Homo sapiens: one gene and its partner. The protein of the gene in region 2 interacts with the protein of the main gene of each other region in a pairwise test. Each region holds a gene or a part of one and is shown on either strand. Other genes may lie near its edges.

The links.
Region 1: the proteins of EBAG9 (region 2) and STX2 interact in binary tests that used the Homo sapiens proteins (3 or more experiments, as listed by UniProt).

Annotation. Positions count from the first base shown.
Region 1 is NC_000012.12:130,794,239-130,801,266, reverse strand, and holds part of STX2 (syntaxin-2), read left to right. Parts: coding exon 1-114; intron 115-2,076; exon of another isoform or gene 2,077-2,099; intron 2,100-2,631; coding exon 2,632-2,742; coding exon of another isoform or gene 2,743-2,766; exon of another isoform or gene 2,767-2,877; intron 2,878-3,352; coding exon of another isoform or gene 3,353-3,424; exon of another isoform or gene 3,425-3,507; intron 3,508-5,146; coding exon 5,147-5,227; 3' UTR 5,228-5,272; intron 5,273-7,028.
Region 2 is NC_000008.11:109,536,335-109,543,197, forward strand, and holds the start of EBAG9 (receptor-binding cancer antigen expressed on SiSo cells), read left to right. Parts: upstream 1-3,838; 5' UTR 3,839-4,127; exon of another isoform or gene 4,128-4,391; intron 4,392-6,863. Other genes in the region: EBAG9UORF (uncharacterized protein LOC139907707), read left to right, coding at 3,392-3,466. UniProt on the Homo sapiens protein: May participate in suppression of cell proliferation and induces apoptotic cell death through activation of interleukin-1-beta converting enzyme (ICE)-like proteases.

The DNA.
Region 1 (7,028 bases), on a different chromosome or scaffold from region 2:
AGACAAGCTCTCAATGAAATCGAGTCACGTCACAAGGACATCATGAAGCTGGAGACCAGCATCCGAGAGTTGCATGAGATGTTCATGGACATGGCTATGTTTGTGGAGACTCAGGTAGTTACAGACTCTTGCATTCTCCAAGAGAGATATCAGTCATGTGTAAAATCTTACTGCATCCCACTCTGTCTAGTGGATGTATCTAGGAAAGCTGTTATTTTGGATCCACCAAATTCAGGTTAATTGCAGTGTTATATGTGATGCTGAAATGCTGGAAGCAGCTTTAACAGTTGAACTGTTAACAGGAAGGGACTGGTTCAGTTGATTAAATTATGGAGTGTTCATAGGTCAGCCTTTTAGGCAACCATAGGCAACCTAAACTTTGTTCATGGAGAATTCTTACTGAAATATGCAGATGTTTGTGCTAGAATTAAGAGAAAAGGGAGATACAAAGATCTTCTGTGTATGCCCGTACATATGTATGAGTACATAAACACAAACACATGGCACGAGCTTGGCTCCATAAAACAGTATCCACAGAAGGAAAGGCGTATATCAAACAGTGTAATGGCAGTGAGACTATGGGAATTTTAATCTTCTCTAAAAGTATTTATTTTCAGATTTTCTATAAGAAGCATATATTACAGTAATAACTAGGAGAAATGTCTGAAAGAATCAACCCCAAGTGGGGATACAATCTATGACACAGATGCAAGCTTGTGCCTGTTACACGGGGTTTCCCATCTGCCCAGTAACACAGATAGGGAGTGAAAGCAGGTGTGGAAAGGCCCTTCTGAGTGAACCGAAGAGTTAATGCAATTCTTAATAAATAGAAAACTCCTCTGGGAGGCTGAGGTGGGAGGATTGTTTATGCCCATGAGTTCAAGGCTGTGGTGAGCTATGATCATGCCACTACACTCCAGCCTGGGTGACAGAGTGAGACCCTGTCTCCAAAAAAAAAAAAAAAAAATACACACATATATATGTATGTATGTATATATTGAACTCTCCATGTAAAGTACGGGATGGATCACAGATCACATGCTCTGTGATGTGCATGGGTATGTTCACACTCGCTCTTTGTCTTTGAATAAGGTCTTCTCGTTATTTTTCAAATACCATGGAGATAAGACTCTGTTGCTGGTTAGGATTCAGCTGACCACCAGGTGAAGCGGAAGCATTTATATCAAACCATCCTAAGTAAATGGTTTCCTCACTTGTCCTGAGCCTGGTTTCGGATCTGTTTTGGCTGGAGTCATCCCCTAAGTAGGTTCACATCTGATGGGCTTATTTTCTGAGACTGCCTGGATTGTGTAAGGATAGGAATCCATCCACACACAGGATTGTTCCTGCCTGCTTCAGCAACCTTGTTAAGAAACACTGTATTTTGAAGAACTTTATAATGAGAATGTGTGTGAAAAACTCAGGCACCATGCCTATTTTTTTTTTTTTTTTTGAGACAGGGTCTTGCTCTGTTGCCCAGGTTGGAGTGCAGTGGTACAATCTTGGCTCACTGCAACCTCTGCCTCCTGGGCTCAAGCAGTTCTCCTACCTCAGCCTCCCGAGTAGCTGGGACCACAGGTTTGCACCACTACGCCCGGCTAATGTTTGTATGTATAAGCATTTGCTAGAGGAAACCAACAGCTACACAGAGGGCAGGGATGGGACGATCTTACTCCTTTTTGATTTTGGGGGCCCCGTTGCCATTCATTATATGGTAAGTGGAGTGTGGGGAGTCTGATTACCATTGGTTACTTATTTCCAGGAAGCATTCCAAAGGAAACCAGCTGGACAGAAAGAACGAGAGATGATTTCTGTAATTACTAAAGCTTTTGTAGTACCTTAGACTTCAATTGTAATTGCTCTATACCAAATGCATTGCATTAAGCTCCGTTAGAAAAATGGCTGCATCCCTGGCTTTGTTTCACTGTTTCCTTTTAGAAGTCTGTTGGTATTGCATTATATTGACTCATCTAATGCAAATGTGTGCATAGTCAGAGATTACTAGTAAGTTGAAGTTTGTGACTGAGTGAGTTAACTCTCCGTCATTCTTCAATGCTTTACGATTCACTGCTGCAGGTTGTGTCTGGACAGACAACCAGGTAATACGTTACCTCCCTCACACTTTGCTGAATTCACCTCTGTTTACATTTTGCTCATTAATGTAGTCAGCTGAGTGTCAGATGTGAGCTATGCTCAGTTTACTGATTTAAAGAAGTAGTTACAATTTTCTACTTTGTGGAAAAGATGTCATTCTTTGTATATTGTCTGTCTGTGCATAATGGTAAAATACTAGTTCAACCAAAAGCTGGCTGCCTCCCTTCACCCTGCCCATCTGTCGAAAGTGTCTGCGTGTTAAAGGTATCTCAGAATTGACTTGAGGTGCCTTTAATTATCAACATGGTGGCCCATTCCTTTTCATTCTTTTTAAAATATAAATTGAGTTTTGATTGCTTTGCACTGGCACATGTATAATGGCCTCATCTTTTATCTTTCTGTAAATGTGAAAAAAACCCTCAGTATCCATTACATGCACATCGTGTTTATATAAAACCTTTGTTCTATGGTTGTCTTAAAGATACATGATTAAGCCATTTGAAAATGTCTTCTAAGTTTGAAACTTTTTGTTTTAAGGGTGAAATGATCAACAACATAGAAAGAAATGTTATGAATGCCACAGACTATGTAGAACACGCTAAAGAAGAAACAAAAAAAGCTATCAAATATCAGAGCAAGGCAAGAAGGGTGAGTTTGGCTTCGAAGAATTAAGCTGCGTTTTTCTCTTCATTTGGTTTCAAGTTGTAATACATTGATGTAAGCCTGCCTAAAAGGTATTCCAAGAAATAATTAATTAATAAATGTTTTATTTTAAAATGGAAATAATTTTTTTTGCTAAAAATTTAAAAGGTTTATTAGATGAATTATTTGTAGTTCATCTTTTGTGTTCTAAGTAATTGAAACCCTAGGGCTGGGTGTGGTGGCACGCCTGTAATCCCAGCACTTTTTTTTTTTTTTTTTTGAATTGGAGTTTCGCTCTTGTTGCCCAGGCTAGTAGAGTGCAATGGAGTGATCTTGGCTCACTGCAACCTCCACCTCCCGGGTTCAAGTGATTCTCCTGCCTCAGTCTCCTGAGTAGCAGGGATTACAGGCACCCGCCACCATGCCAGGCTAATTTTGTATTTTCAGTAGAGAGAGGGTTTCACCATGTTGGCCAGGCTGGTCTTGAACTCGTGACCTCAAGTGATCCGCCCATCTCGGCCTTCCAAAGTGCTGGGATTACAGGCGTGAGGCACGGTGCCTGGCACCAAATTGTTGGCTACACATTTGATGCAGTGAACATTTATTTTTAATTTAGGTTATTCGTGACTTCTTGGTTTGGAGGAAAGAAGAGAATTATTTGAGACCGTGGACCTGCAGTCTTAGGTAGCACCCACTTAAAGGGATCCTCAAAAGAAGGGAACCCCTTTCACTCAAGATGCACAGACTTTGCATTAAAAAGGGTTCAGGGAACCCTGTGTGATTTTTTTGTTACGGGGCAAAAATTTAAAACTTACTCTCCTAACTTAGGCATTTTATGATAGTGCCCCTGACACTGGAGAGATTATGGGTTTTTCACATTGTCACCTCCTTGTGCTAATACACAGAGATGCTGATTTTCACCGTGTTAGGAAAAAATGGAGTGAGACGGTGTGTGTGGATGCACCTCCAGGCGATGGCCCTGAGACGCACCCCCGGGCTGCAGGCTCAGCCGCCAGGGCACACCCTCACTCACACCCCCGGGCTGCAGGCTCAGCCGCCAGGGCACACCCTCCGCTTTTCCTGGGTATGTCTAAGTATGCTCGTCATCTCTGAAATGCCAGACATGGTTTCTCATGTTATTTCATTTATTGCTTTGAAAAAATTGGCCCCTAATGTAAACTGAGGTGAAGAGATACCTGTATAAAGTGCTTAACTTAGTTCCAGGCCTAAGTCAGCTTTCATTAAAAACAGGCAGTCCTGTTCCTTTTCTCCATGACCTGAACACGTCAGTCTGGTGAAAACGATAGTGAAAGTTCGTTGGTTTTACAAAGGGGGAAGGTGGTGGGTGTGATACGTTTTCATTCTCCTCTGTGGATGAGCAAGCCTGGCTCTGTGAGGTGCTTGGGGTCTGTGCGGTAGCTGGCGTATAAACTCGTCAGAGACGTGATGCCTGTTTCAGAAATGACACTGTCTTTTTGATGAGATGCCTGCTAATGGAACCCTCCTGGCTTGTCTCCCTGTCCCCTTGCCGCTCAAATGCTTTGCTGCTGCCCCTGGCTCAGGTGTGGGTCGTCCCCACTCCTAGTGTCCTGCATTTATTCCCGCGGAGCCATGTGGCCCTCAGAGGGAGGCCAGGCAACGTTTGTAGAAGGGTTTTTTTTTTCTGTGTGCTATGTCAGGAGCAGTGAAGAAGTAACTGCCAAGAACATAAAAGAAGGAGCGAAAGGCCAAGTACTGAGTGTGTCGGGGCTTCATGACGAGGCAGTGGGGCTCTCCGTCACTGAGCTAGCAGGCCCGCACCTCTGTACATGCGGAAAACTAACTGCATGTCTCAGTCATCAGAAATGTGGCAAAATGACTTGGTCGTGCTGTCCCCATGGATGAAACCTGAAATAACAGTTACATAGCAGCTTATCGCCAAGTAGTCTGACCTTATTAAGTCACTCTCTCAAGAAGTCGCCCAACAGTATTAAGCAGTGTCCTGTAACTTAGCTTCTAAAGTGAGTTCTGATGGGTTGTTTTGCTTTATTTTATTTTATTTTTTTGAGATGGAGTCTTGCTCTGTTGCCCAGGCTGGAGTGCAGTGACACGATCCTGGCTCTCTGCAACCTCTGCCTCCTGGGTTCAAGTGATTCTCCTGCCACAGCCTCCTGAGTAGCTGGGATTGCAGACCCACGCCCGGCTGGTTTTTGTATTTTTAGTAGAGACAGGGTTTCGCCATGTTGGCCAGGCTGGTCTCAAACTCCTGACCTCAGGTGATCCATCCGCCTCGGACTCCCAAAGTGCTGAGATTACAGGCGTGAGCCACCACACCTGGCCAGGTCGTTTTATTTTAAATGAAGGATGTCTTTTAATGTGGCAATATGAAATTAACCATGCATGATATAATCAGCTTGCTTTTCTTTGACAGAAAAAGTGGATAATTATTGCTGTGTCAGTGGTTCTGGTTGCCATAATCGCTCTAATTATTGGCTTGTCAGTTGGCAAATGATGGTGTGGATAACGTCAGTGTGCATGCCTCTCTGCCAGGGTGGGAGTAAGTAACTCATCAACTAATTTACTTATTAACTTTTGCAATTAACCAATAATAGTATTTGCTTAATTGTAATAGACATAAAACTAATAAAAGCTTGCCAGCCACGCAGTACAGATAATGCCATCTAGTGATACATCTGCCTGTGTGCTGATTCGAGTGCCCAGCCACTGTGTTTACTGAGAACAAGCACAGGCTGGGCGGTAACTCATTTTTAAACCAAGGTCACCTTCTTATCCCGTTTTTAAAAGTGTTTTTGAGACAGGGTCTAGCTGTGTCACCCAGGCTGGAATGCAGTGGCGTGATCATGGCTCACTGCAGCCTCGACCTCCTGGGCTAAAACTGTCCTCCTACCTCAGCCTCCCGAGTAGCTGGGACTACAGACGTGCACCAGCACACTCGGCTAATTTTTAAAAAAATTATTTTTAGTAGAGACGAGAACTCTCTGTATTGCCCAGGCTGGTCTCGAATTCCTGGCCCTCAGCCTCCCAAAGTGCTGGGATTATACATAGACATGAGCCACTGTACTCAGCCTGAATCTTTTGTTTTTGATCTAAGACCATTAGCTCTTTACATGTAGTGGATCCTTCATTAAATGTCATAGAAATTCAGTGAAGATTAATTCTCAGTTGTAATGTTTTGTCTCCTGAGTTTTAGCTTTTAGAGTAATTGCAACACTGAAAGGTACTTTATAAAATACACTAACGCATCATTTTACTATGGAATCGAGGGCATGGATGAACGCTGAGAAAAACATTGACTGAAAGGAACATCCTTCGACCTTTCTATAGGCAGCATCTATTTTATTTAAAAATATTTCCTTTAATATTAAAAGGAAAATTACGTATTATATTTAGTTAGCATGCCTGTTAATTCTTAAAGAATTCTGAATATAAAAGGTATCAGTTTATTTAAAGAATCAAGGTGTGAGTGTCACCTTTCCTAAACTTCAGCAGGCTTTGTGGTTTCCCCCTGGTTTTCTTCTGCATTGGGAGCCATCCTTGCACTGGCCCTGAAGTGGCAATGCTGTCGGTGTGTTACAGGTGGACACAGCAGTGATTTCTCTGTAAATGTTTGGCACAATTCTTGTATTAGACAGTTGTGAACTGTTCCCAGGTGTCTAGAGTGTGGCAAGTCATCCCCAATGAATTTATTCTTGGGTTATGGAAGTGACTGCAGACTTGATAGTCACCCAAGGCTTTTTAAAAAGTTAACATACAGCAGAAAGGAATCACGAGCATGGTTAAGTCTCACTATTGCTTTGTAATCTTTAAGATTTATTCCTTCAACATGGCAACACCCTGTCTCTACAGAAAAAAAAAAATCCAAAAACTAATTGGGCATGGTGGCACACGTGCCTATAGTCCCAGCTACGCCAGAGGCCGAGGCAGGAGGATCACCTGAGCCTGGGGAGGTCGAGGCTAGAGTGAGTCTAGATCGCACCACGGCACTCCAGCCTGGGTGACAGAGCGAGACCATCTCAAAACAAGAGATTGATATCTTAATGTGAGCATCTGTTACGCTCACCATGCAGTTACCAGATGAGAAGTTTTCCAGTTAGTCTTCTGACATTTATGCAAAAGCCACAAAATTACACCTGAAATTACTCTGTAAGGAGCTCTGGGATGCTGCGTGTGTTAACATTCCATTATTTGGCAGTCAGAACTCTCTTACCGTCTATTTTTATTAGGCAGGATGTTTGTGTAGGATGTTTATTAGGCAAGATGTTCTATTTTTTTCTTCTTAGCTTTGCTGAAAA
Region 2 (6,863 bases):
GTCAAAGTCACGATGTCCATCATGCTGTAGCTCAATGAATGAGTCTCACATTGTTTCATGTTGTTTTATTTCTACTTTCTCAATCCATGTACAAGATAGATTTACAAACTACTGTTTTATGTTGGTTGTATGAATTTCAATACATTTACTGTTAGAAATAACAAAAGGTCTTAGACTGCCAGATGCTGTTCCCATCAACTCTACTTAATTCATAATATAGCTGAACTCTGTCATAAATCTAATAACGATGTGGACATTAGCCAGAAGTATGATGTGGCTGAACCTCACCACTGAACACAAAATGAGAATTCACCTCATCTTTTCATTTGAATTTATTTCTACTAAAATATATGTATTATTTTTCTTGATTTCTAACCAGGCCCCTTCTGAAGAAAACTGGTTAACTCTAAATTGTTACTAAATTTTGAATCTTCCTGTATTTAGCAATAAAAGTTACTGCTAATTGTAATAACAATTATGAGGAAAAATTTATTTAAATGCTTCATAGAAAGTTAATTTTCATTTAATAGAAAAGAAATAAAAAATCTGCTTCAGACTGTTTGATTTCTCTATTAGGCAATTGACCCTAACTAGTATATGGTGATTTTGAGTATTAAAAAAGAAGTTATAATTTTCCAGAATATTAATGTTTATTATTTTGAAAGCAAGTAAAATTCTCCAGTAGGAAGATTAATAAAACAATTCATTAAAATTCTCATCAGAAAATCCTATGCTTTCAAATGTATCTGCTCAAAGATGTCACTCTATGTGCGGCAAAGCTTTGTTTTACTTGATCAAGAAATGAATGTGACTTTATGATCTTGTATTCAACTGTGAACAGCTGCTCATTAATAAAAAGCCATTAAAGTCCAAGTCAGAACAGCAGGTCTAAAATTGTGTTTGAGGGAAAAAAAACCCACCCTTTGATGAAAAGCCAGGGAACTGGGTTGGGAAAGATCTGGAAGCAGAGGGCTGTGTTTGCAGTCTGCTCCTACCTCCTGGGCCAGGTCAGGTGACAAGGCCAGAGTTAGCCCCAGCTGGAGAAGTCAGAACAAAGCCTATGTAGGCTTTGAAAGGGGAGAGTAAGTGGTGGGCTGGAGGTTGATAGTGTGAATAAATCAAGCTGGTAATTGGGCAGAGGCTGATCAGAAGCGTTAAAGTGAGCAAAATGGTTTGGACACAGAGCAGACAGAATTTACTATATTCCATTGAGTAAAAGAAATTCATATGCCAGGTTCTATCCCTTATGTTCCTCCCATTTGACATCTGGTGGTTTCCTACCCCCGTCCCACACAAGCTTTGGGGAGAGGACAGGACTTAAAGTTCCCTGTTCCCAAGAGGTGGTCCCTAAACCCAATCCCAAATTATTGACTTGTGATCCCAATTATGGGCTTACTATTTAACAAGTAAAGATGATTTTAAAATATTATTTTATAGGTATTACTAAAGTAAATTTTAAATTTGCAGTCTTTAGCGAGCTTTGTTTTCTGTTTTGCTATTGTGTTGGGAAACAAGTACTCAGTAACTAGCTGTTTCTGGAAAAGTATATACATTTCGTTTTGTTTCATTTGGAAATGGCAAATTTAATAAAGAAAACTGAAGAATCAGGAAAAAGAAGAAAATATCCTTGGGCATAATAAATTGTCTAAAGCAATCAACTCTTTAAGAAAAAAAATTTAAACACGTTTATATCCGAATATAGGTTATTTTGGATTTTTTTTTTTTTTTTTTTTGAGTCAGGGTCCTGCTCTGTCTCCCAGGCTGGAGTGCAGGGCCCAATCATGGCTCACTGTAGTCTCGACCTCCCAGGCTCAGGTGATTCTTCCCACCTCAGCCTTCTGAGTAGCTGGGACTACAGGCATGCGCCACCAAACCTGGCTAATTTTTAAATTATTTGTAGAAACGGAGTTTCGCCCGTTGCCTGGGCTGGTCTTAAATTCCTGGGCTCAAGCGTTCCTCCTGCCTCGGCCTCCCAAAGTGCTGAGATTACAGGCATGAGTTACCGTGCCCAGCTAGATAACTCGATTTTTTAAATCCAAAAAAAATTTAGAAATTTTATATTGAAATTTAGGCATTAGAATTCTAGAGATTAAAGTTAGAGCAGGTGTTTAAGGGACTGAAAGGGGTTGCATGGCCTTTGGGAAATGCAATTACCGGAAATGATACTGTAGTAATGCAATAGTAATGCAGTAGTAGTAGTAGCTGCAGCAACAACTGTTATCTATGAATGTTTGCTATGTGCCAGGCTCTGTGCTAAGAGAGCTTTGCAAGCATTACTACTGCATGAAGTAGGCACTATTATGGCCATTTTACTGATGAGGAAATTGAGGTGAACAGATTAAATAATTTTACCCAACTTTACACAGAACCATTCCAGAGCACGAGCCATAAACACATCTTTCCCGTCTTGGAAATTAAATTATTAATAAAAAACGTGGTGCAAATTGGAAAGAGGACGGTTGTGGTAGATTATCACAAAGTTAAGTGGGTAGGTGGTTGCTGGGTCAGGGTGGGAGAACAAAGGCAGCTGTAATAAAAAAAAAAATTAAAGGCATATAAAGAAAAAGGCTTGTTGAGAACAATTTGCATAAACTGATTTTGGCCTTAGACCCTATTCACTTCTCCCTCACCAGTCACTTTGCAACTGTGGAGCATAGTATTCTGAGGGTCCCCTGCACATAACAACCCCTTTCATAGCATACAAGATAAAAAGAAGAATCAGGCTGCAAAGAGAGAAGCACTGAAGGAAAGAACATCTCAGGTTGAAAGAAGGGCAAGTCCAGGGTGCATGTGAGGAACAAATGCATGGACACGGTGAAGTGCCACTTCTTCATTTCTAGTTCAACACAATTCAATTAAAAATTACTGGGAGGAGGCTACGTCTTGAATTAAACTCAGCATTCCACATCTTTGAGGTGGCGGAATGACTGAGGGGAGGGGGTCTGTCTAGCCACATCCAAATCTTCCTGAGACAGAGGGAGATCCCTCATTTGTTGCAGTGTATTTTCCTTGGTCGCATCTGACACAGGGGTTCTGTGGGTTGAACAGAAAGGGACTTTGCTGGAGGGGAGGCACTCTGCATAGAAGGAAAGTAGGGACATCTGGCAGAAGCAGGCGCTCCGAGAATAAACAGTCAAAGCAGCTCGCAATAGTCCCAAAAAGCTACCCCTCACCGAACCTGGCGTGCCTGTCGCCGCTTGCCCCGCTCCCAGGGCTCATTGGCTCCCAGTCTCGACGTCAGACCCGTAGCCTCTCACCTATTGGGCCAGCCAGGACCTGAGGCGGAGTGCAGAAGCGAGGGCCTGGAGACAGCCGAGAGCCGCCTTCAAGGAGGGCTGGGGGCGGGGCTAGAGGAGGGGCTGGGGGCGGGTTTCCCGATGAAGGGGCGGCCATGGCAGCTGCGCAGAGGCAACGCAGGCTGCTACGGAGCGCGCGCCCGGCTTTGAATGAGCGGGGCTGGGAGTGAGCGGGCGGAGCGCGAGCTCGAGGAAGAGACAGGCAGCGCGCGTGAGCGCGCCTTGTGTGCGCGCGCGGCCCGCGGCAGCTCGGAGCCTCCGCCGGGCGGGCGGGGAGGGGGAGGGGCAGGTGAGTGTGTGCGGTTCGCGCGTGCCTGGGAGGGGCTTTCCTCTCCCTACCCCCATCCCGACCCCAGCCCTAGCCTCTGGGGCATTGTCTGCCCTTCGCCGTCGGCCCTCCGCCTAGCCGCGCACTTCCCGCCCTCCCACCTTCCTTTCGCCCTTCCACCAGACCTCCCTCGACGCCCGACAGCTGCTCTGGGTACTGTTTCCGGGTCAGGGTGACCTCTGGGGTGAGGAAACTGCGACTGGGAGCGGGACCCAGGCGTGCAGCATTCGCCATGCTCCGCTCACGCGTGGGAGACTGGGCTGTGGGGTACCGGCCCGGAAAGCACGCAGCCTCCAAAGCCGCCTTCCTCAGGGAAATTTGCGTGACCTTACTGCCCTCCGTCTACAGGCCTTGTACCTCTCCAGGCCGATTTTTCCACAATTTAAATCTCAGTTCACCTGGTATCCAGCTCCAGCAACTTAGAGCGTTTCACGTCACGCCGGGCGCCAGGCGTCGGCTTGTATAACCTGAAAACGCTCCTGTTTTTCTCATCTGTGCAGTGGGTATGATTTTTTTTTCATCAACAAATTTCACGTGGGTAATCTGAAATGAAACCACTTAAGTTATGAAACTCTTTCCTTTTGAGTTATTCTGGAGACCTTACTCCGCCTTCGGAACCGCCCCAGTGGTGTCACATACTTGAGGGCCTGACTCTCGGTTGCCAGACATGGCACAGAATGTTCGATTTTACTACCAGCTCTCACACTCCGCTTCTGTTTCCCCTTCTCTTACGGGCCGCTGCTCAAACCTTTATTTATCAAATTTAAGTGAGTTCAGGTAAATTTTATTTTGGGAGCTTTGTAATATTTTCTAACCCACTTCAGAGAGTTATAGTTTGAGGATATTCTGGACTGTACTAGATCATATGGTTTTCAAATTTTGGTATGAAAAGATTCGTAAATAGAGTTTTAGAAATACAGCACCTGTTTAGTATGTACCGAACATAGATTTTGGCTTTGCTTGTTTTGTGAATTGTGATGTATTGAGGCTACTTGAAAGGACCTCTAGCAGTTTACCGAGAATTTCAACAAGAAAAGATATAATACATTTGATCTATCAGTTTCTAATGTAGCATTCTTTTTTTAATTGTATTTTTTTTCCGTTAACATGGCAGAGCTCTCATTCTTGATTTCCTAGAGTTGTCATTTCTTCAAAAAGCCTTAATGAGGATACATTGCCTCATAGTTTTGAATCTCATTCTGATATACCTCAAATTTTTGTCTTTGTAATTTTTAAGGAAATTTAATGTTAAGATTAGATTATATTAACATTGTTCCGTTCTAGAAAGTGTTTTAAAGCAACTAAAGTGTAAAGTAGCGTAAGATACTTATCAAATTGGTGATCTAGAGGGCATTTCAAAAATCGCACTGAGGCAATGTGCACACAATTAAAAGGTTTCTTAAGTAGGATATGATGTAGGGAGAGCCTTGGGCTTTCGGGTCAGTCCCTTTAAATCCTGGGTAAGTGAATCTAAGTCTGTCAACCTCATCTATTAAACGGGAGTAGTGAAAAACCTACCTCTTTTGGTTGTCCTTAGGATTCCAGTGAGGTGATCGAACATTGTCTTGAGCGTTCAAGTGCTCAAGGAATGTTAGTTTCCTTCCATTCAACAAATATTTGAGTACCTACTATGTGCCCGGCTTTGACTGAGACCTATAAATACCAGAATGAGCAAGACTGATGGACGTCCTGCCTCCTTAGTTTCTTGCATTCCTCAGGGATAAGTTTATGGGCAAGCTCATGACAACTGGGAGTGAACGCAGAGTTTCCCCATGCGGAGTTGGTAGTATTTCCCAGCTTCCAAATCCAAAGTAGCGACTGAAACATAGTAGGTGCTAATATATATTCATTTAGATGAATAGGGACATTAAGTAAATACAGGTCTCAAAGGATATTCCTGCCTGCCAGTCAGTGTGATTGATAAAATCAAAGTGTGGCTTGATCGCATTTTCCCTATTTTAGTGCAACTGGTTGGAAAATTTATCTTGGAAGTGGTAGTATCACTGAATTATTAAGAATGTTCCTTGTTCATGAGATGTTCTTGGCTTTTGAATTAAATATACCTAGGTTTGAATGGAGTCACTGGATGTGCTTACTCTGTGTTTAATTCAATGAAACAAGGACAATAGTATCTATGTCATAAGATGGCTTTTTGAGTTGTGTGTTAACATTTTGATAGTGCATGGTTCATAGTAGACAGTCAATGAGTATCAGTTCTCCTCTTTTATTAATCACAAAAGGAAGTTTTCTGCAGAATGAGGATATTCTTGATTGCTAGGGAGAGAATTCTATTCTGTAATCACTAAAAGACCCAGTTTCTATTTTTTATTGGGAAAAAAAAAACAACCTTTAAATTTTACCTCCAGTTAGCATTGAAGTTATTCAAGTTGGCAAATATTTATAAAACAATGACACTAACAATATTTGGAAAGGTGATGGCTGTGGTTACTAGGGCAGTTTATGAAATTTATTCTCAACTTTTATTCATGTATATCCTAAAACTGACAGTCCCAAATGGTAAATATCATTTTTCTTCACAACATACTGATAGAGTATCTCCTTGATTCTATTTCCTTCCCTGCCAAGTACCACACGTTCTGTAGTCTCTTTTCTGGCTCTTTTTTCTTATAATTTTTCAGAAAATTTAGGCTAATTTTCATTTGAGAAAGTTTTCTTTTGATTGAGAGTTTTGTTCTTGACAAATCAGCTTTAAATGAAGTGATTGTTCACCATCATAATTTTTCAGATCATTCTACTCATAATGAAGCAATCAAACTTTTTTTTCAAGTCTTACTTTGCAAATGGTAACTGAAGGTACCAAATGAATAAAATACTCTAGAGAAGGGTTGTACAGGGCAAAGTAAGGTATAGAAATAACCATAATACAAAATAAAAAATGTTGTTTCTTGGGAAGAGTAAAATACTAGAATTAAGAAGACTTTACAGTACTCCAGCAAGAGGTAGTAAAGGCTTATGCTAGATAGATTACAGTGGAAATAGGAAAGAATATGGGCAGTACTGGGAAATTGAATAGGGTCTTTTTGGCAATTAGGTGTAAGGAGAAAGAAAGGAGGAGTCAGCATTGTTGCATGATTTGAACTTGAGTAAACCACTGGTTGGGATGTTTTTGACAGAAGTATTTAAATAACTCGAGTACAATTTTTAATATTCTGGTTCTTTTTTTTTTTTTTTTTTTTTTTTTTTTTTTAACAGTCACTGTTCTTTTCATCCTGTCAATT